Homo sapiens: one gene and its partner. The protein of the gene in region 2 purifies or fractionates together with the protein of the main gene of each other region. This does not show direct contact. Each region holds a gene or a part of one and is shown on either strand. Other genes may lie near its edges. The genes, in order: ZNF627 and FBLN5.

Evidence for each region.
Region 1: the proteins of FBLN5 (region 2) and ZNF627 purify together in Homo sapiens (co-immunoprecipitation; 2 studies listed by BioGRID and IntAct, with this or other methods). This does not show direct contact.

The regions. Positions count from the first base shown.
Region 1 is NC_000019.10:11,587,733-11,604,745, reverse strand, and holds the start of ZNF627 (zinc finger protein 627), read right to left. Parts: upstream 7,264-17,013; 5' UTR 7,119-7,263; coding exon 7,116-7,118; intron 537-7,115; exon of another isoform or gene 382-536; intron 1-381. UniProt on the Homo sapiens protein: May be involved in transcriptional regulation.
Region 2 is NC_000014.9:91,930,695-91,937,694, forward strand, and holds part of FBLN5 (fibulin-5 isoform 1 precursor), read right to left. Parts: intron 6,508-7,000; coding exon 6,253-6,507; intron 1-6,252. UniProt on the Homo sapiens protein: Essential for elastic fiber formation, is involved in the assembly of continuous elastin (ELN) polymer and promotes the interaction of microfibrils and ELN. Stabilizes and organizes elastic fibers in the skin, lung and vasculature.

The DNA of each region.
Region 1 (17,013 bases), on a different chromosome or scaffold from region 2:
AATAAACTTTTCCTTGACATTCTTAACAAGTTTCCAGTGCAATCTCTCTTTAACAGGGAACAAGGCTGTAAACTTGAGACCCTGGTTCATTTATCTGAAATGCATAGGGGATGACAGGCTCCCTCCCACTGGGGATGAAGGAGCTGGGAACCACACATGCCATTCTGCTGGGCCCACCCAAGTCTGAATCCATGGAGGGGGAGGGTGTCCTGAGAGTACCTCCCACCCACAAACCCAAAACACCAGGCTCAGATTTCTCTCTGGATGGCCACTCCCTGTTGTCACCCCATGATCTGGGTGAGATCCAGGATTGCAGGTGCACAACTGCCCAGAGAGAGGTCCAGGAGGTAGACTGCCTCCTACAGTGATGGGACAGGATACCTGGGAGTCCTGGCTGCCAATTCAGCCCCCACCCTGATGGAGTGTGATGGAGGGGACTGAGACTCAGGCTGCTTCTGGATAAGATGCCCCACCAGACACAGGATTTGCAAGTCGTTCTTCCACTTGGTGAATTATCTTTTCAAGTTCTTGGTGTCCTTTGAAGAACAAAAATTACCAATTTTGATGAAGTGTAAACTTTAGTTAGTAACATATTGGCTCACCAATTCTGATCATCATCATATATGATATATTGGTTCATCAATTATATGATATATATGATATCATATTTACGTACTTTGGGAGGCCAGGATGGGAGAATCACTTGAGCCAGGAGTTAGAGATCAGCCTGGACAACATAGTGAGACCCCCATCTACCAAAAAAAAAAAAAATTAGCCAGATGTGGTGGTGCACACCTGTGGTCCCAGCTACTTGGGAGGCTGAGGCGGCAGGATCACTTGAGCCCTGGAGGTCTAGCCTGCAGTGAGCAGTGATCGCACCACTGCACTCAAGCCTGGGTGACAGAGCAAGACTTCGTCTCTTAAAAAAAAAGAAAAGTAGGGGAAAACAATCACCTGTGGAGGAGAATAAGGAAACTCTAAGTATTATCTGTTCAATTTTTCTGTCAAACTACAACCGGTCTAAAAAATAAAGTTTATTAAGTAAAATAGTGAATAAAATACCATTTCATGGAAGATTCACAGCTATGTGAAATAGACAGATGGCATACAATATAACATATAGGATGATATCACTTCCACAAAAAACAGACAAAAATAAGGCCGGGCGTAGTGGCTCACACCTATAATCCCAACACTTTGGGAGGCATAGCTGGGTGGACTGCTTGAGCCCAGGAGTTCAAGACCAGCTTAGACAGCATGGCAAAACCCCGCCTCCACAAAAAAAAAAAATACAAAAATTAGCTGGTGTGGTACTGTGCACCTGTAGTCCTAGCTTGTTGGGAGACTGAGGTGGGAGAATCACTTGAGCCCGGAGGCAGAGGTTGCGGTGAGCCAAGAGCGCCACTGCACTCCAGCCTGGGCTACACAGTGAGACTCCATCTCAAAAAAAAAAAAAAAAAAGGCTAAGAATAGCCAAGATGTCGTACAAAATACAGTTAGGATTGTTAACAGACTGAATGTTTGTATTCCACCACCATCCCCTGCCCAAACTTTCATTTGCTGAAATCCTAACCCCCAAACTAAATGCAGAAACCAGCATGCGTGAAACAAACAGGCAAAGAAACCAAAAAAAAACTCTTTTTGGCATAATATTAATGGTAATAACTTACTAAAAATTCAAAAGAGGAAGAGCCAAGCAAAATTCAGCCTAATGATAAATAGATGGTAAAACTATGAAGAACCACCTTTTAAAAATGAGGACCTGGTCACCTGTGGGTACAGACGGGAGACAAGATCAGGACATACCAGAAATGCCCAATGCCCATTTATGAACCTGGGTAGTGAGTCCACAGGTGTTTCACACAACCCACTCTCCTCTCCTCACAGTGTGGAAATGCTCCCTCCTCCAGGGTCTCAATTCTCACCAGCGAACACTTACCCAGAGCCAGGTGAAGGTTCTGATCTCTAGTGTCTTTTTTCATATACCATTTCTGACACCAAATGTGTGGTGTTTGCTGAACACAACCAAATCTCCAATTCTCCAACACCAATTAAGCATTCAAATCAATTCTGACACTACCCAGAGTTAACGGGGACCCCACAAGTTCAGGGCTCATTACCATAACAGTGCCCCACTGCAGATGCCAGTCACAAGCCCCAGGGATCACCCATACTTCTCAGCAACTGCATATAAATCAGAAATGGCGAAATGGAAGGGATGGATGTAAGGGAAAATGGCGGCAGAAGATTGGGCAGGTATGTAATCCTGGAAATAGCTATGGTTAAAGAAACTCCCCCGTCTTTTGTATTCTGCAGGAGCAGGTTACGCAAAGAAACACTCTTCTCATTATGACTTAGATGACACTGCTTTTTTACCTATGACAAAGCCATACACAGACTAGAAATTCCCTTTATTTTCCTCACAATTGATTAGCTGAACAGCTCTGTCTTCAGTGATCAGTCAGAACAAAGTACCTGTTAACAAAACTTTGGTTAAGTTTCTCTTCTTCCTCCAGCCCCTGAACTTTGACCCACCCCCAGCCTGAGCCTATATACAACCCCTCTGATGACCCTCCTAAGAAGAGACTGCCTTCAGGATCTAGGTGGGATTTTGCACCCTGCATCCTGCCTTCCACCTCCCACCTTCTTTCTCATCATTTGCTCCTCCCTACAAAAGAAAATCCTTTTCTGCATAAACTCTGAGATGCTTGCAGATTTTTTTTTTTTTTTTTTTTTTTTTGAGACAGAGTCTCACTCTGTCGCCCAGGCTGGAGTGCAGTGGCGCGATCTCGGCTCACTGCAACCTCTGCCTCCTGAGTTCAAGCGATTCTCCTGCCTCAGCCTCCCGAGTAGTTGGGATTACAGGCACGCACCACCATGCCCGGCTAATTTTTGTATTTTTAGTAGAGATGGGGTTTCACTATGTTGGTCAGGCTGGTCTCAAACTCCTAACATTGTGATCCACCCACCTCGGCCTCCCAAAGTGCATGGATTACAGACGTGAGCCACCACGCCCAGCCTGAGATGCTTGAAGATTTTATACTTGGTGCCTTCTCCCCTTTCGATTATCCTTTAGAATAGTCATTCCTGTCTGGTGTGGTGGTGCTCCCCGCCCCACCCCCATAATCCTGGAATTTGGGGAGGCTACGGTGGGAGGATTGCTCGAGGCCAGGAGTTAGAGACCAGTCTGGGCAACATAACAACGTCCTGTCTCTCTTAAAAAAACTTTTTTAAAAATATAAGCCAGGCATCATGGCACATGCCTTTAGTCCTAGGTACTTGGGAGGCTGATGTGAGAGAATTCCTTGAGCCCAGGAGATCAAGGCTACAGTGAGCTATGATCGCACCACTGCACTCCAGCCTAGGAGACAGAGTGAGACCCTGTCACACACAAAAAAAATAAATAAATAAAAATAAAATAAATCACTCCTTACCTAAATCCAGATTTGTTTCATTAGAAACGTCTACAAACAGACCCAAGATAATAGCAAGTACATTCTCAGAAAGGCATCACCTCAACCACCTCTGCCTATGAATCCCCAGCTTTCCAGGGCTCTGAGCTTCTCTCACTATAAAGGGCTCCACCCAAAGTCAGTTGTGAGCAGCTGGGACACTGCAGGGGAGGCTCCTCAGCAAGAACCACTGGGCCTGTAATGTCCTCTCTTTGAAGGCTCAAGATTGGTCTTAGTTTCAAGTCACTAGTCTGCTGTCTCTGTTTCCCAGTCAAGGTTATGCATTTAATTTTCAATGAGAAAATACCCAGGGTTTGAAGATTCCAGTAAAATCACTCAAATTCACTGTTTATAGCAAGGAAGGAAATTGTAAGGCACTTATATTTCATACCTTAACAGGAAAAGTAAAAGTATCCATCCTCTTCAGACAATAAACATGTTATTTATTCTTTCTATGGTAACAAATCATGTACTAAATCATATTGGAACACTTCTAGGAGTTACCAAGTCCTGTCCTACTAGGACTTCGCATTAAACTCTGATGTCTAGATAACAGGAAGAGAACAGTTATCCACTGTCACAAGTTTGCCACCCTGCAAAGCAGAGGAATTGATGTTTTGGTGAATCTCTGTAATTCACCAATTTATTTGCTACACTTACTTGTGGAAATGTATTCATTTTCTGCAGTCATGATAGAAGAGAGTTTTCTCTCTCTCTTTTCCTTAGTATTCCCAACACTAAGCCCTGGAATTCCATTTTAAATCACCACACCCCACCCCCACAAAAAAAAACAACATACTTGAGAAACTTACTACACTTGCTTTGGGAAAGAAAAAAATAATAATTTTTTTTTTGAGATGGAGTCTTGCTCTGTTGCCCAGGCTGCAGTGCAGTGGCGCAATCATGGATCACTGCAAGCTCCGCCTCCCAGGTTCATGCCATTCTCCTGCCTCAGCCTCCCAAGTAGCTGGCACTACAGGCACCCGCCACCATGCCCAGCTAATTTTTTGTGTTTTTAGTAGAGACAGGGTTTCACTGTGTTAGCCAGGATGGTCTCGATCTCCTGACCTCGTGATCTGCCTGCCTCAGCCTCCCAAAGTGCTGGGATTACATGCGTGAGCCATCGCGCCCAGCCATAAGTAATAATTTTTAACAAACATAAGACTAGATATTTAATGTTTTCTGAAATCCACTTCCTTCTTGCCTCTTTGCAAAACTGTCTTATATTTCAAGGTCTACTGATGAAATACATTTATAGTTACTTAAAAAAGAAAAAAACTGAAACTGCAATAAGTGAACAAATCTTTTGCAGGGGACAAACCCAGGAAGGGGCTGCGCTAACCTGGAACAGAGGTACGTCTGACTCAAGTTTCACATCTTTTTTTTTGAGACAGAGTCTCGCTCTGTCACCCAGGCTGGGGTGCAGTGGTGTGATCTCGGTTCACTGCAACCTTTGCCTCCCACGTTAAAGCGATTCTCATGCCTCAGCCTCCCCAGTAGCTGAGATTAGAGGCACCTGCCACCACACCCAGCTAATTTTTGTATTTTTTAGTAGAGACAGGGTTTCGCCATGTTGGCCGGGCTGGTCTCGAACTCATGGCCTCAAGTGATCCGCCCACCTCAGCTTCCCAAAGTGCTGGGATTACAGGTGTGAGCCACCGCGCCCGGCCTAAGTCAGGTCATTCTATCACCTGGGATATCGTCCACCCCCTAACCTGCTCACTGAAGGGCTCAGTGACCACCCTTCCAAGAGACACTGCATTTTGCCTCCATCTGCCTGAAGTACATTTTGCTTTTCAAGTTCTTGCATCACCTCAGTGGGATGGGTTTTCCTGTCCTTGGGATAAGTTTTCTCACTTCACCAGTCTAAAAGAATCCAGAGGGCAAGAATCATATCTGTTTTTCCCCTCAATACCATCATCCATTTGGCTGGACACCAATGTGTCCCCCAAGGAATGGGATCTGGAATTAGGGGAAGAAAAGCTGAGTGTCCCAGGGGTGAGCTTTGAGAGGGAGGGGATATCAAGAGATTCCTCCGACCCCAGGACACCCAGCTCCTCCACTAAGAGGCCCCACCCCGTACTTCAGGCTGTCCAGTGGGAGCAGGCTGATACCAGACCCTTCAACAGATCTGGCTGCTGTGGGCATCCTGTGTCAGCCCAAACAGCCCTGAAGCCCAGGACCAGGAAAGGAGGATGCTCTGAAGACATATCACAGTTTAAAGTTTCCAAAGGGGAACCCCAACCCAAAGACACTGTTTTTTGTTTTTTTTATTTTAGGGTCCGGGTCTCACTATGTTGCTCAGGCTGGTCTCAAACTCCTGGCCTCAGGTGATCCTCCCGCCTTGGCCTCCCAAAGTGTTGGGATTACAGACATGAGCCATGGCACCAGGCCAACCAAAAGACATTCTGAGAACATCCCTGTGCCTAGGAGAGAGAAAAGGAGAAGAGGCACAAAGGTTTTTTCACAGCAGGGTCTCATACATGTATTCTCTGCTTTCCTCTCCTGTGAAATGTTCAGAAACAGAAAGCAAATATTTTTAAAAGACCAATCGATTGCTCCTTGAAAAAATAATACAAATTAATTAGTTTGAAATGTGCAATAAAGGACAAAGAGTTGATAATGTCGTGACTGGAGTTACCTTTTGGGAATATGGTGAAAGAAGTGGTATCAAGAATTATTTGCAAGCGCCAGAGGAGTCAGGCTAGGGGAACAAGGTCAAGGATTTGGGACCCTGTCCCCCTGGGGAGTGTTAAAATAATTAATTTGGAGACAATTAGAGGGCTGTGGCTATGGTGTCCTGGTTTCCTACCCAAGGAAACAGAAATCTAAGTCGAATGAAATTCTTTTATTTGATTTTATATTTTAAAAATTTGTAGTAGTTTTTTGGTCTCAGTCTGAATATGTTCATTTAAAAAAAATTAACAGAGATGGGGTCTCGCTATATTGCGAGGCTGATCTTCAACTCCTGGGCCCAAGCGATCCTCCTGTCTTGGCCTCCAAAAGCGCTGCGATTACAGGCGTGAGCCACCGCGCTCCAGCCTCAAATGAAATTCTTATAAATTACCAGTTTATAAGGAAATAAAATTTAGGGTTAATAAACCACAACCACCAATCCACCTCTGACTACATAAGCAGAAAATGTCCACCTAGATAGAGCAAATAAGGCGACTGCATAACTGTCACCAACCAAGTACTGAATTTGGTTCGCTTCCTCCTGCACCTTACAGCCTTTCCTTCCATTCCCTCCAACGGATCCCCAAGCCACAAACCACGACCGGGAGCTTCTCCATCGATGAGCCGCTGTTTGCTCAAATAAACTCTAAATTTTTAACGGGAGAAAGGCGGGACTGTGGGGGGCGGCCACAGACCGCAGCTCCTGCAACACGAACCACATCCGAGGAGGGATACCCCCATGACCCTCCCGCGGCCCCCGCACCATGTGGGGAGACGCGGGGCTGCGGGGCCGCAGGCGTCGCGCAGGGACGGGACAGGACGACCGGGGTCCCAGCTCCTGGCCCAGCCCCACCTTGCGGCCGAGGGAACTCGGGTCCCAGACCCCGGAGTCGCCGCAGGGAGGCCTAGGTCCCTCCACAGCCGGTTCCGGCCGGTTCCAACCAGCCCCTCCCCCAGGTCTGGGGACGCCTGACCCCTCACACGCACCATTTCTCGGCTTCCAGGTGTCCCGGCGTCCTCCCTACGACTCCCGCGACCTGTACAGGTCACGGCGCGACAGAGGCTGCGGCGGAGACACCTTGGGCCTCTCGGAGAAACGGAGACGCGAGCCCGGGTGGGGACGGTCGCCAGAAACAAAGGCTCCGTAGGGAGGCGCAGGCCCTGCCCTCCTCTCCCGGGCCCATCTGAATGGACAGTTGGCAGGGCCCCGCCCCAGCGCCCCTGATTGGATAGGGTGACATACCCCGCCCCCTAAGGCCTGAGTGACGTAGGAAGCCATGGAAACGTGGCTGTGCGTAGCAGTGTTGACTGGTTCTAGCCACTGCGCCTCTCAGGCCGAGTTTCCTCCCTGCACCCAGCCCGAGGGATATTTGAGGGTTTGTTTTGGTTTTTTTTTTTTTTTTTTTTTGAGACGGAGTTTCGCTTTTGTCGCCCAGGCTGGAGTGCAGTGGCGCGATCTCAGCTCACTGCAATCTCTGCCTCCCGGGTTCAAGCGATTCTCGTGCCTCAGCCTCCCGAGTAGCTGAATTACAGGCACCCGCCACCACGCCTGGCTAATTTTTGTATTTTTCGTAGAGACGGGGTTTCGCCATGTTACCGAGGCTGGTCTCTAACTCCTGACCTCAAGTGATACGCCCACCTCAGCCTCCCAAAGTGCTGGGATTACAGGCGTGAGCCACCACGCGTGGCCTTGTTTTGGTTTCCTTCCTTCCTTCCTTCCTTCCTTCCTTCCTTCCTTCCTTCCTTCCATCCTCCCTCCCTCCCTCCTTTCTTTTTTTTCTTTCAGGGTCTTGCTCTGTCACCCAGGCTGGACTGCAGTGGCATGATCTCGGCTCACTCCAGCCCCAATCTCCCGGGCTCAAACGATCCTCCTGCCTCAGCCTCCCTAGTAGCTGGGACCAAAGTCACGCCCCACCACACTCTGCTAATTTTATTTTGTTGTTGGTGCTGTGTGTGTGACGGGGGTGGGGTGGGTTAGATGGGGTCTCACTATGTTGACCAGGCTGGTCGTGAATTCCTGGGCTCAAGTGATCCTCCTGCCTAGGCCTCCCCAGGTGCTGGGATTACAAATGTGAGCCACCGTGCCCGGCCAATATTTGCATTTAATGCAGAGCTTGCTTCTAGCTTGCCAGAGTAGGCACTGTCTTCTTCTGGCACTCCATGAGCTCTTCCTTCTAATTCCTTCCGGACACAAGGTCACCAGTATGTGCAGGGAACTCCACACTCACTGTGACATGGAGCAATCGCCTTGCCTCAGAACGGGAGGGAGCCCAGGCTAGGCCAGGGAGGACAGGAAGAGGAGGAAGGGCCTGATGTTCCGGGAAACGGGCATTTGGGATGAGGCGTGCCAAGGCTTCCTCCCATACCCTCCGGTCCCTGAAAAAACATCTATACGTGGAAAAAAAAGTAGAAATAACTGAGGTGAGAGGAAGGATGCTCTCTGATGAAGTGATGTGGGATGAGACCCAAAGTAATGTATTAGTATTAAAAGGCAGGTTGGGCTGGGTGCGATGGAGCACGCCTGTAATCTAGCACTTTGGGAGGCCGAGGCAGGCGGATCACCTGAGGTCGGGAGTTCGGAACATGGAGAAACCCCATCTCTACTAAAAATACAAAATTAGGCCAGGCGCCGTGGCTCATGCCTGTAATCCCAGCACTTTGGGAGGCCGAGGCGGGCAGATCACGAGGTCTGGAGATCGAGACCATCCTGGCTAACACGGTGAAACCCCATCTCTACTAAAAATACAAAAAATTAGCCGGGCGTGGCAGTGGGCGCCTGTAGTCCCAGCTACTCGGGAGGCTGAGGCAGGAGAATGGCGTGAACCTGGGAGGCGGAACTTGTAGTGAGCCGAGATGGCGCCACTGCGCTCCAGACTGGGAGAGAGAGCGAGATTCCGTCTCAAAAATAAATAAATAAATAAAATAAAATAAATAAATAAATAAAAATACAAAATTAGCCGGGCCTGGTGGCACATGCCTGTAATCCCAGCTACTCGGGAGGCTGAGGCAGGAGAATCGCTTGAATCGGGGAGGTGGAGGTTGCGGTGAGCCAAGATCACACCATTGCACTTTAGCCTGGTCAACAAGAGAGAAACTGTCTCAAAAAAAAAGGCAGGTTAAGCTGGGCACAGTGGCTCATGCCTGTAATCCCAGCACTTTGGGAGGCTGAGGCAGGAGGATAACGAGGTCAGGAGTTTGAGACCAGCCTGGCCAATATAGTGAAACCCCGTCTCTACTAAAAATACAAAAAATTATTGAACCTGGGAGGTGGAGGTTGCAGTGAGCTGAGATCGTGCCACTGCACATCAGCCTGGGCGACAGAGCAAGACTTTGCCTGAAAAAAAAAAAAAAGGCAGGTTGGAGGATTCAGGGAAGATGGCAGAATAAAAATCATAAAGAATCTATGGCCAGGCATGGTGGCTCATGCCTGTAATCCCAGCAGTTTAGGAGGTCAAGGCAGGAGGATCAGTTGAGCCCGGGAGTTTGAAACCAGCCTGGGCAACATAGTGAGACCAACCCCTAACCCCATTTAAAAAATATGAAAATTAGCCAGGGGCTGAGCACAGTGGCTCATGCCTCCAATCCTAGCACTTTGGGAGGCCAAGACGGGAGGATTGCTTGAGCCTAGCAGTTTGAAACCAGTCTGGGCCACATAGTAAACCCTCCCACCCCATCTCTACAAAAAAATACAAAAATTGGCCGGGTGCAGTGACTCATGCCTGTAATCCCAGCACTTTGGGAGGCCGAGGCAGGCGGATCAGGAGGTCAGGAGATTGAGACCATCCTGGCTAACACGGTGAAGCCCCGTCTCTACTAAAACTACAAAAAATTAGCCAGGCGTGGTGGGGGATATAAAGAGCTGATGCCTTTTATTTTTTTCCCTTTGTCAACCTAAAATAATCGAAAGGCTCAAGATCCAGTTAAAATAGTTTATTCAAGGCCAGGCACAGTGGCTCATATCTATAATCCCAGCATTTTGGGAGGTCAAGGCTGGAGGACGGCTTGAGCACAGGAGTTTGAGACCCGCCTGGACCATATAGTGAGACCCTGTCTCTCAAAAAAATATATTGTTTTTAATAAGCTGGGCATGATAGGGTGCACCTGTAGTCCCAGCTACTCGGGGGGCTAGGACGGGAGGATCACTTGATCTCAGGAAATCGAGGTTGCAGTAAGCTATGATGGCACCACTGCACTCCAGCCTAGATGACAGAGACCTTGTCTCAAAAAAAAAAAAAAAAAAGAGTTTATTCAAACACAGAGTACAAGGGTGGCCATCAGGGACATGCTGACACCGAAGAATAGTGATCAATGATCCCAGTGTGGGGAAAAGTGAAAATTGTCTATATAGGCAAAAACAGAGGTGCTGAACAGAAATACATTTCCATACAGATGTTAATATACAGACATAAGATTTGAGGCTGGGTGCCGTGGATCACACCTGTAATCCCAACACTTTGGAAGACCTAGGTAGGTGGATCACCTGACGTCAGGGGTTCAAGACCAACCTGGCCAACATAGTGAAAATCTGTCTCTATTAAAAATACAAAAAGTAGCTGGGCATAGTGACACATGCCTGTAATCCCAGCTACTCAGGAGGCTGAGGCACGAGAATGGCTTGAATCCAGGAAGTAGATGTTGCAGTGAGCCAAGATCATGCCACTGCACTCCAGCCTGGGTGACAGAGCAAGACTCTGTCTCAAAATAAAAAAAAAAATTAAAATAAAAAAAAAAACAGATGTGATTGACTACTGTTGATTACACTCTATGGGGGTTGCTTAACATTCTATTGTAAAGCGGTAACAGTCGCAAGGGTATACATATCCTACATCATTTAGTATAGGTTTGAATGAAGAACAAGGAGTCTGATGGCTACAGTCTCAAAACAAAGGTAAGGAAGCATCAGTCATGCATCAGAGAAGCTGTATTATAAGACTCAGTTTCTAGGACTTAAGTGCTTAATTTTCCCCTTCGCATAATGAATTTGGAAGGTATTGATTTTTTTCTTTTTTTTTTTTTTTTTTAAGACAAGGTCTTGCTCTGTCACCCAGGATAGCGTGCAGTGGTGCTATTATAGCTCACTGCAGCATCGATCTCCTGGGATCAAGCAATCCCCCCACCTCAGCCTCCCGAGTAACTGGGACCACAGGCAAGTGCCACCATACGCGGATAATATTTTTTTAGGTTTAGTAGAGACAATGTCTCGCTATGTTGCCCAGGCTGGTCTAGGACTCCTGAACTCAAGCGATTTTCGCACCTCAGCCCCTCAAAGTGCTGGGATTATAGGCAAGAGCTACCTCGCTCAGCCGAAATTTTATTTTCTTTTTGCACTTTTGTTATTTTATTTTTCTCTTGGGACCCAGACATTGACAATTAGGTCATTCAAAGGCAGCCACAGAGGAAATTACAGTTACCACAGAGGCCCAGAAAAAAAGAATTAAGAAAAGACCGGCCAGGCACGGTGCCTCATGCTTATAATCCCAGCACTTTGGGAGGCCGAGGTGTGTGGATCATTTGAGGTCAGGAGTTCAAGACCAGCCTGGCCAATATGGTGAAACCCCATCTCTACTAAAAATACTAAAATTAGCCGCATGTGGTGGAGCATGCCTGTAATCCCAGCTACTCAGGAGGCTGAGGCAGGAGAATTGCTTGATCCTGGGAGACGGAGGTTGCAGTGAGCTGAGATCGCACCACTGCACTCCAGCCTGGGTGACAGAGCGAGACTCTGTCTCAAAAAGAAAAAAAGAAAGCCGGGGATGGTGGCTCATGCCTGTAATCCCAGCACTTTGGGAGGCCGAGGCAGGCAGGTCACCTGAGGTTGGGAGTTCCGGACCAGCCTGACCAACATGGAGAAACCCTGTCTCTACTAAAAATACAAAATTAGCTGTGCATGGTGGTACATGCCTGTAATCCCAGCTACTTGGGAGGCTGAGGCAGGAGAATCGCTCGAACTCGGGAGGTGGAGGTTGCAGTGAGCTGAGATCACGCCACTGCACTCCAGCCTGGGCAACAAGAGCGAGATGCTTTCTCAAGAAAAGTAATAAAAATAATTATATTTCTATGATATTGGGCACTCAATATATAAAGATGTGATTTGTGACATTAACAACATAAAAGAGCCGGGGGCGGTGGCTCACGCCAGTAATCCTAGCACTTTGGGAGTCCAGGCAAGAGGATCGCTTGAGCTCAGGAGTTCAAGACCAGCCTGGGCAACATAGTGAGACCTTATCTCTATGGAAAAATTAACAAATTAGCCAGTCATGGTGGTGGGCACCTATGGTCCTAACTACTTGGGAGGCTGAGGTGGAAGGATTGTTTGAGCCCGGAAGGTCCAGGCTACAGTAAGCCGTGATCACGCCACTGCACTCCAGATTAGGTCACAGAGTGAGATCCTACCTCAAATAAATAAGTAAATAAAAATTTTAAAAAATAACATAAAAGAAGAGGAAACTATAAAAATAGAGTATCTGGGCCAGGCGTGGTGGCTCACGCCTGTAATTCCAGCACTTTGGGAGGCCGAGGTAGGCGGATTGCCTGAGGTCGGGAGTTTGAGACCAGCCTGACCAACATGGAGAAACCCTGTCTCTACTAAAAATACAAAATTAGCCAGGCGTAATGGCGCACACCTGTAATCCCAGCTACTCAGGAGGCTGAGGCAGGAGAATCGCTTGAACCCAGGAGGCAGAGGTTGCGGTGAGCCGAGATCACACCACTGCACTCCAGCCTGAGCAACAAGAGCGAAACTCCGTCTCAAAAAAAAAAAAAAAAAAAAAGAAAAGAAAAAAGGAAATAGAGTATGTTTATACCATAACCAGGCATAATGGCACATGCATGTAGTCTCAGCTACTTGGGAGGCTGAAACAGGAGGATTACTTGAGCCCAGGAGTTCAAATCTAAGCTTGGGCAACATAGCAAGACTAGTTCTCAATTAATAGAATAGAATATTTCTATGCTATTGAAGTTAAATAGGTATCATTTAAACCTTTGCTGGGAACAGTGGCCCATGTCTGTAATCCCAGCACTTTGGGAGGCTGAGGCGAGAGGATCACTCGAGCTCAGCAGTTCAAGAGCTCAGGCAACATAGTAAGACCTTGTCTGTACAAAAATTTTTTTTAAAAATTAGCCAGGGATGGTGGCCCTTACCTATAGTCCCACATACTCGGGAGGCTGAGGTGAGAGGATTGCTTGAGCCCAGGAGGTTGATGCTGCAGTGAGCCATGATCACACCACTGCACTCCAGCCTGGGTGACAGATAAGGCTCTGTCTCAAAATAAAATAAAATAAAGTTATATTATTATAACTTAGAATGTCAAATGTAATCCCCATAGTAACCATAAAGAAAATATCTATAGAAAATACACGAAAGGAAATAAGAGAATCAAAAAGTCTCATTACAAAAAGTCAAGTAAACAGAAAAGAAGGCAGTAATGGAAGAAATAAAGAACAAAAAAGCTCCAAGACACACAGAACACAAATGGTAAAATGGCTGAAGTTGGGCCTTCCACCTCAGGAATTCCTTTAAATTGAAATGGGTTAAACTTTCCAATCAAAAAACAGAGATAGGCAGAATAGATGTTTAAAATATGATCCAAGCCAGACACAGTGGTGCCTCCCTGTAGTCCCAGTTTAGGGGATTGAAGTGACAAGATTGCTTGAGGCTATTGAGGCGGGGCACATTGGCTCATGCCTGTAATCCCAGCACTTTGGGAGGCTGATACCTGAGGTCAGGAGTTTGAGACCAGCGTGGCCAACATGGTGAAACCCCATCTCTACAAAAGATACAAAAATTAGCCCGGTGTGGTGGCGGGCACCTGTAATCCCAGCTACTCGGGAGGCTGAGGCAGGAGAATCGCTTGAACCCAGGAGGCGGAGGTTGCAGTGAGCGAAGACTATGCCATTACATTCCAGACTGGGCAACAAGAGGGAAATTGTCTCAAAAAAATAAAAATAAAAATAAATAAAATAAAAAATAAAAACAACCTTGAGACAAATATGAAAATCCAACATATCAAAATGTATGGAATGCAGAGAAAGCAGTGCTAGAAGGAAAAATTTATAGCTGTAAATACATTCATTGAAAAAGAAGAAGCCTGGGCAACATGGCCAAACCCTGTCTCTACAAAAAATACAAAAATTAGCTAGGTATGGTGGTGCACGCCTATAGTCCCAGCTACTGGGGAGGCTGAGGTAGGAGGATCGCTTGAGCTTGAGAGGTCGAGGTCACAGTGAGCAGATGGTGCCACTGCAGTCTAGCCTGGGCAACAGAGTGAGACCCTATCTCAAAAAAAAAAAAAAAAAAAAAAAAAGAACTCAATAAAACATATGTATTCATGGCCTGGCATGGTGGCTTACAACTGTAATCCCAGCACTTTGGGAGGCCGAGGCAGGAGGATCACCTGAGGTCAGGAGTTTGAGACCAGCCTGGCCAACATGGCAAAATCCCATCTCTACTAAAAATACAAAAGAAACAAAACAAAACAACAACAACAACAACAAAACATATGTATTCCTTCCTGCGGATCATGAATACTGAAATAATTGGGGGTACCGGCTGGGCGTGGTGGCTCACGTCTGTAATCCCAGCACTTTGGGAGGCCGAAGCAGGCAGATGACCTGAAGTCAAGAGTTTGAGACCAGCCTGGCAAACATGGGGAAACCCCGTCTCTACTAAAAATACAAAAAGTAGCTGGGCGTGGTGCCGGGGGCCTGTAATCCCAGCTACTTGGGAGACTGAGACAGGGGAATCGCTTGAACCCGGGAGGCAGAGGCTACAGTGAGCCGAAATTGCGTTACTGCACTTCAGCCTGGACTCCATCTCAAAAAAATAATAAATAATTGAGGATGGTGAACAAAACCTTGGGTGGAGAGAAATGGGTGCCTAGTAATAACGGGATTAGAGGAACGAGTGTCCATTGGTGTTGTTGACTGTGAGGTGGGTCGTTGTGGAGTTCACAGCTGAGGGAGATCTGTGTGGGGCTCCTTCCTGCCCTGGCTATGGCTTACTCCAGCCGGTCCCCGCATCCTCCCGTGCCCGCTGACAGCCTTGCTGCAGGAGGGGCACCAGAACTTCTCAGCCTGCTACTCCCAAGCAGTTCAGCGGTACCCAGGATAGAAGGACCAGGAGCTGGAGTGGATAAGTCAGGTAACCATGGAATCAGTGGGCACCGGCTGGGATGAAAAGGAGGACAGGGGTTAGGTGGGGCTTGGGTGGGGTTTTCCTCCTTGCCATCCAACTGGCTCAGCAATGGCTGAGGCAAGGAAGTCACCATTTGCTTTCACTTGATGGTGGAGACGATGGATGTTTTTACTCTGGGGGCTAGAGCTGGTGGATATCTGAGAGGATGTGGGGAGGGGTTGGGGGAGCATGATGGGGTCTAGAGAGTAACGGGAATGTTTGATCACGAGGATCAAACATTCAAACATTCAAATGATCAAACGTTCAAATCATTGAGGAAAGAGGTGGGAGTTAGGTAATATAAAGACCAACTCCTGGCCGGGCGCGGTGGCTCACGCCTGTAATCCCAGCACTTTGGGAGGCCGAGGCGGGCGGATCAAGAGGTCAGGAGATCGAGAGCAACCTGGCTAACACGGTGAAATCCCGTCTCTACTAAAAATACAAAAAATTAGCCGGGCGTGGTGGCGGGCACCTGTAGTCCCAGCTACTTGGGAGGCTGAGGCAGGAGAATGGCGTGAACCCGGGAGGCGGAGCTTGCAGTGAGCCGAGATAGCGCCACTGCACTCCAGCCTGGGTGACAGACTGAGACTCCATCTCAAAAAAAAAAAAAAAAAAGAAAGAAACCAACTCCTTGGCATGACAGACCCCACCTCACCTCTCCCGATTTGGGATTTTGTTTGTTTGTTTGTTTTGGTGGAATCTCGCTCTGTCGCCCAGGCTGGAGTGCAGTGGCACGATCTTGGCTCACTGCAACCTCCACCCCCTGGGTTCAAGCATTCTCCTGCCTCAGTCTCCCGAGTAGCTGGGCTTACAGGCGCCCGCCACCACACCTGGCTAATTTTTTATATTTTGGTATAGACGAGGTTTCACCATGTTAGGCAGGCTAGTCTCGAACTCCTGGCCTCAAGTGATCCACCCGCCTCGGCCTCCCGAAGTGCTGGGATTACAGGTGTGAGCCACTGAGCCCAGCCCCATTTGAGATTATTGACCCACCTGGAACCTAGCCAGACTGAACTGGTGGCAGCAAACTACAACAGTGAACAGCTACATTTACATCATGCCACCCTCCAAACCACCAGCCTGACCCTCCACAGCTCATCCTGCCCTCCCATTCTCCAGACTGAAAATCAGTCCCTTAGCCTGTGCGAGCCCCACCAAATCCATAATTCCACCTCCCGTGCACTGAGGCAGGCATGGGGGTAGCCAGTCACCAGGACACCTTCACACCCATGCAGCTGAACTGTGCTGACTGATAGCGCCAAGGAGCTCATGGCGAGTGAGGCAGAGCCCCATCCAAGCCAGGGTCCTCTTTCCAGGCTTTTACCCAGTGCCTACTCAGAACTGCCTATAGATCCCCTCCTCTGAGAATCTCACCAGAGCAGACACGGTTTGCAATTTCCTGGGAATCCGGCTGCTCATCATGTTATCCTACAAACATTCCAGTCCCAGCATACCTCACTCATCCCACCCCTGGAATTTTCTCTGGGGCAGTCTCTGGCTGGATCCACTGTAGAATCTGTCCACGCCCTGCACAGGCCTAGTGGCAAGTGGGGGGCTGGAAGGAGCATTAATTTCTTCTCCAAAAGGGAAACTGGGTCTGCGTTCGGTGCTGCAGTTCAGGCTGTGGCCATGCAGGGGCAGCAGTGGACAGATAAAAACGTCTGAAAAAGGCGCTCAGGCTGCGGGAACAGTAGACCATCCCCAGGGACTTCA
Region 2 (7,000 bases):
CAGCATTAGGGGCTGAGGTTCCTACTTGCCCCGGCCTTTATGCCACATTTGTTCCCACTTCCCACTTTTCTGTCTCACAATTTAAATAATCCCAGGTTCTGCTGCCATTTCCAAGCAGATTCCGAGTGAAGCCACATCAGGCTTAGCTGGGGAAAGCCGTTCGAGGCCTGCAAGGTAAATGTGTACTAGGCTCAGTTTTAGGTCATTTTAAAGGTTTTGAAGAATTAGACGTTTGATGCATTTTCAGACTCTGTGACTCTTCCCCTGGGTTATCATCTCAAGACCCTAGCAGCCTTCTCCACAAATCTTTCCCAGTTAACGTTTACTATGGGATACTCTGCGTAAACACTGGGCAAGGTGTTTGCACATGTTATCTGTGAGACAGGCATTGTTATATCCATTTTACAGATGAGGAAACCAACCCCCGTCCTCACAGGTAGGAAGTGGCCAAACCAAGGTGAGACTCAAAGCCTGTCTGACTTCCCAGTTCCAGTCCCCTCCACCCCAGAAGGCTTCTTATCTCTGCCTTCTTTTTATACCATCTCAGGAACTCATCAGAGGCCGTCTTGAATTTCAGCTGCTTGTGCTTGTGTTGCGTTTAATCTCCCTTCCTTGTCCACAAGCTCTAGAGAGAGCTCCGTGGCCATGCAAAACTCCACATCCCCCTCGGTGCCTAGGCCAGAGCCTGGCACCAACAAAGCACTCTGTACACATTGGTTGACTGAAGAAGTACTGGCTGGCTTTCAGGAAAAATAACTCAAGAGAAAGCCTCAGACCAACACCACCCACCTTCCAAAAGGATTCCATGTGTTGCTCTCTGCCTGTTCTCAGATCAATAACAATAACAAAAATCCTGGACTAGAAGAGAGAATCAAGATATTGCTTGTAATTTCACAAATGGCCGGAATTTCTGCAGTCCCCGGAGTAGCAGGGCTCTAGTAAAAGGCTGCTTTCTCAGCCGCAAAATATTTCACAAACATGAGTTACTGATGGAGTCTCTACATTTGCCACTGAGCCAAGCTGGTTAGCAAAGCTAGAACTTGGAATGTCCACCCAGAGAGATGACAAGTTGAGCCCCCAAGGGAATGAGTTGACAGAGTTGAGTGGCGGCCACGTTCAGGGACCCGGTCTTAGAGGCAGCGTGCCATGAGAGGAAGGTTCCTGAATGGGAGTCCACATCTTGGGTGCCCCAGCCACTCGGCACCAGCTCACCCCACCCCCTGAGGCTTCAGCACCACACCATCCTCAGCCCCACACCGTCCTTCTCTGGGATGTCTATGTGGCCAGCTCAGAACTCTACGTATGTGTTTGATTTGGCCTCTGTCTGGGTCTTGATTGTGAGCTGTTGGGTGAGGCTCTCCTTCAGCAGCCCCTCCCTGCTTACCCGTTAACCATGTCTGTCTGGCTCTCCCTCCCCTGAGAATCTGGTCACCAGATCTCCCAAGGGTCCAGGATCTGGGTGACACACTCTAATGAGCCATGAGTCCCATCACTGTCATGCCAAGATGCCAGTTTTCTGAACAACACAAAACTTGCTTGGCTCGTGGACTATAATTCCTAGGTCACTGTTCACTGTGTCTGCAGAAATGTCCCAAGTGCACACCTAGGGGCCTGTGGACTCAAACCTAAGGCCAAACATTGTTCCAAAAGGACAGGGTCTAGTCACCTCCAAAGTGGAACCAAAAAGAGAAAAATTGAGGAGGAAGCTCTGAGGGACTGGCCACCCAGGTGCTGAGCCCGGCCCCGCCCAGCCCATGGAAACAGCATGGCTTCATGCGGCACCAAGGGATGAAGTGCTTCCTTGAAAGTGGGTCCAAACCCTAGAAAAAGTAAACCGCCGTGAAAGGGGATGCTCATTTGCCTCCCCAAGGCAGACTGTCTTACACTTTGAGAAGAAATCAGTGCATGAAGAGGGCAAAAGATCAAAGATGCTACCTGCAAAATAGCCTGCCCAAAAATTTAACCTGAATTGGATCAAGTCCCTAGATCTATGAGCAGCTTACAAGAAAATATAGGGGACGAAGGAATAAGATAACCCGCGCCCCGGCAAGAGTGCAATCAGCCACCTCCGAAACGTATGAAATTCTACAGAACAAGCAGCTCAGCCTCTTCAACAAATAAGTGGCCAGGGAAACAGTAAAGACTAAAAGACATTTAAGAGACTTGTCAACCAATGCAATTTGCAGAATTTGCATGGATCTGATTTCAACAAACCAACAGACAACAGGCTGCTGAGATGGCTTCGTATGCATGGCCCCTTTGGGGCTCAGCTTGTCATCCCTCTGGGTGGATATTCCAAGTTCTGGCTTTGCTAACCAACTTGGCTCAGTGGCAAATGTAGGGACTCCAATAACTAATGTTAGTGAAATGTTTTGTGGCTGAGAAAGCAGGATTTTGTTAGAGCCATGCTACTCCGGGGACTGCAGGGATTCTTCTGGCCATTTGTGATGAAATTGCAAGGCATTTATGAGACAATCAGAGAGATTTGAACACTACCTGGATATTTAATGATAAAAAGAGATTATTATTGACTTCTGTAGGTTTGATAATGGTATTGTGCTTTTTGGAAGTTTTTTTATTTTAATTTTTTATTTTTTTGAGGCAGAGTCTTGCTCTGTCGCCCAGGCTGGAGTGTAGTGGCACGAGCTCGGCTCACTGCAACCTCCACCTCCTGGGTTCAAGCAATTCTCCTGCCTCAGCCTCCCGAGTAGCTGGGAAAACAGGTGCATACCACCACACCCAACTAATTTTTGTATTTTTAGGGGGTTTCATCATGTTGGCCAGGCTGGTCTCGAACTCCTGACCTCAGGTGATCCACCCACCTCGGCCTCCCAAAGTGCTGGGATTACAGGCATGAGCCACCGTGCCTGGCCTTAAATTTGTTTTTGTAAAGAATTTCTTTATCTCTTAGAGATAATTCTGAAGTCTTTAAGAATGAAATTATATGATGTCTGGGATTTGCTTTAAATTAATGCACTGAGTAGAGTGTAAAGAAGAAAGGAGATTGTGCCCGTGCTGATAACTACAGAAGTTGGGTGATAAGTAGGTAGGTGCTTACTATGCTCTTTCTACTTTTGACTAGGTTCAAAATTTTACAGAGCAAAAAGTTTCATTATGAAAAAAAAAGAGAGATAGCTGGGTGCCACGGCTCACACCTATAATCCCAGCATTGTGGGAGGCCGAGGCATGAGGATTGCTTGAGCCCAGGAATTTGAGACCAGCCTGGGCAACATGGCAAAACCCTGTCTCTACCAAAAAAATACAAAAATAAGCCAGGCATGGTGGCACATGCCTGTAGTCCCAGCTACTTGGGAGGCTGAAATGAGAGGATCACTTGAGCCCAGGAGGCAGAGGTTGCAGTGATCGAGGATCATGGTGGCACATGCCTGTAGTCCCAGCTACTTGGGAGGCTGAAATGGGAGGATCGCTTGAGCCAAGGAGGCAGAGGTTGCAGTGATTGTGCCACTGCACTACAGCCTGGGTAACAGCCAGACCCTGTCTCAGAAAACAAAAATAGCAAGAGAAGGACCTTGTTTTTAATCCTGACTTCAGCACTGACTCTGAGCACCCTCGAACAAATCTATACCTCACTGAGCCTGTTTTCTCATTCAAAGCCTGAATGGTTCAAATCATGGCTCGGCCCCTCACTTGCTGTGTGACTTTGAACAGGTTTCTTAGTTTCTCTGCTTCGGTTTCCTCATGGGTACAATAGGAATGATAATAGTTTTACCTTGTAGCTGGTTATGAGGATCAAGCGCATTAATTATTGTAAAGGTCCTAGCACACGAGTTCTATCCAAGTGTTTGATATTATTACCACTGCTGCTGCGGATGTTACTGTTGATCGCTATTCTTATTTTGATGAAGAGGACAAGACACCTTTGGAGATGTTTCCTCCTCTCCTAGAACACTAAAGTTTCAGAAATGTTTCCCAAGTCTCCCTGACTTACCCACTGCTCATGCAATGCCTCCTCCACAGGATCAGAGCTGTGCTCTGGAAAACACCCACATTCTCTGGGCAGTGACACCTCCACACTCACCTCCTTGTCTTTTCTCAATGATCCCCCCATCTGGTTTCCTTCCCTCCCACCTTCCGCCACGGTGCCTTGCTTCCCTTCCACCTGCTCCCAGGCCCACCTCTCTTCCATCCCAGTTCTTGGAAGGAGCGGTAGGTAGAAAGAGCCTCCCTTTCCCATCCCTTCTCTTACTTCCCCCCACCCCCACAATGCCAGCTCTTTACAATACGCAGAGGGACCTCAGCGAGGGCCATTTGAAAGCCCTGTGTAAAACCAGGAAACCATGGGGTGGGGTGAAGGGAAGTTAGAAAGAACTCAGGACTTATGAATGCATAATGCTGAACTTTTTGGAAATGGATGGGCCTGGTGCCAGTCCTCACTAGGGCTCCTAGATTGTATTCTCCTTACAAAAGGGCCATTATGAAAGTTCCGCATCTCCCGTGTGACAGGTTCAGAGCCATAAATGGCATGACGTCAGAGGGACCAGGGGAGGAATAGGTTTCCCAGCCATGTCCTCATTGTCAAGGGCACTGGGACCCTGGAAAGAGGTTTAGGGGAAGGAGGGAGACACTTTGGAGAAAGCCGCAGCAGTTCCCAGCCGTTCTGCAAAGGAGGCCGCTGAGCTTGCCCGAGGCATCAGCTAGACCTGTCTGCACCACGACCACCCAAGGCCCCCTGCCAAAACCGCAGAGTGCCTCGAAAGAATCATTACACCCTCTTCCTCACCTCAAGACACGTAAGGGCTGATCACTTGGCTTATCCAGCCCCCACGTGACATCCTGGAAGAGCAGCACCTCCCACCTCTATCTCTGCATTTTCTTTTGGGATCATTTCTTTTCTACCAGATAGGAGAGGTCATTTCCTATAGTTAGGAGATTGTAGACAGGGGAGAAGTTAGGGGAGCTGGACTGGCATCCTACCTCTGTAATTACCTAACTGGTTGGAGTCCACACTCTCCTTTCTACAAAATGAAGAAGTTGAAGTTAAAGATTGGTAAAAAAAAGTCCCTTCCAGTTACAAAGGTCTTTCCTCCTGATGCTGGTTATAAGGAAGCATGTTACCATCTTCTCCACCAAAGTTGGCTTGACCGGACCCTGCGCTCATTCCCTTTGCACAGTCATCTACGTTTAAGGTAAACATTAACCAGCTCTGTCTTTCTCACTCTTTCTCTCTCCCCACGCCAACACACACAGAGACCACACGCCTTGAGACCAGCGAAAATGCAGAAGTTTGGGTTCAAGCATACCCAGTGTTCCCTCATAGCTCTGAAGACACTTGTCTGCAATTATTGTATTAAAAAGAGAATGCACACTCCTTCATATAAGCATATAGAAGACACCTTAAATTAACCAACACAGCTTCCCTAATAGTGGGTTACAGCTCAACACTCCAGAGCCCTGAAATGGGACAACAAAATCTTGGGACAAACAAAAATGGGAAAAACAAAAAACAAAATGGGACAAACAAAAATCTTGCTAGACCAATGGTCTCTCAAACTTTTGGGGTAGAGGAAAAAAGTAATAAAACTTCAATTCATATATATTTTTTCTTAAGAGACAAGGTGTCACCATGTTGCCCAGGCTGGAACGCAGTGACTATTCACAGGCGCGATCACAGCGCACCTTGGTCACACCCCTTGCCAATTCCTTTGTGCCTGCTTCTTCCCGGAGGTCCATTCTTGCTGTGAGTTCCTATCAGTGAGGCTCCTTTTGGTCACAAGCACATTAGTTCCAACCCAAGTAACCTAATTTTCTTTCCAGAACAGTTGGCCGTGCCCTTCAAGGCTTCTTGTATTGCAGAAGCACATGTTCCAATCAAGGGTGCGGGGGCTGAGGACAGAGCTTTGGCCCTGTCTAGAACTTCCTCTGAGATTTACTTACTGTAATAAGTCTGACCAGATGTATTGGTTATTTGAGAAAATATTACCTTGGTCTTTAAATATATAGATGAGTTATAGATAGATAGATACAGATAGGTAGGTAGATAGATGAAAGTAAAATAAAGAAAAAAATTGGTTTTCTGGAGAACTGTGAACAAAACAGCAAAATAACCTCCCTAGTTGGGCAGGAACCCAGAGATACAGGCTGCTAAGAGTGAAATAAGTATGCAGAGAGTAAGTCATTGTTTCACTGGTGCATTGAATGGCAACTAACAACCCATTTGTGGTGAGCATGCCAGATACAGACGATGTCTTCACCAAAGCACAGCGGAGAGGAACAAAAGGCCGGGCTACTCACCCACACATTGGTTGCTTTCATCCATCTGGTATCCAAAGCGGCATATAAGAGGCCTGGAGATCGTGGGATAGTTTGGAGCTGAGAGTGGTGGGGCAGCTGCTGGGTACGGACCTGAGTAGGGGGTCGAGTAGGGGTTCGAGTAGGGCCCTCGATACACAGGGTTTGTCCGGGGAATGCATAAATACCCGCCATTTTGGTTAACACACATCATGTCTCCTCGGCAGGCCTCGGGGATGGTTCGGCATTCATCAATATCTGAAAGGCACAGAAAGGGCGAGCATTAGTGGCACCCCAACTGCCTTGTGTCCGGTGCATATTTAAGCAGAACTCGGTACCAGGCGTGGAGGAAGCACTCCCAAACACCTAGGGTGGTCCCAACTCATCGCGGTAAGGTACCCCAAATGTTGGCTGAAGTGTATCAAAGTAACCAGTGTCACTCAAACATCAGCCTTTCAAATACCACCATCATGATTTTGACCATATCTACAAAAACCTTGCTATAGTTTGAATGTCCCTCCAAAACTCATATTGAAACTTAATCCCCAGTGTTGCAATATTGAGTGGTGGGGCCTTTAAGAGGTGATTGGATCCTGAGGGCTGTACTCTCATGAATGGATTAATCTACTCATAGATTAATGGGTTAATGGGTTATCTTGGAAATGAAACTGGTGGCTTTCTAAGAAGAGGAAGAGAGACCTCAGCTAGCAGCCCAGGCCCCTCACCGTGTGATGCCTTGCGTACTTCGGAA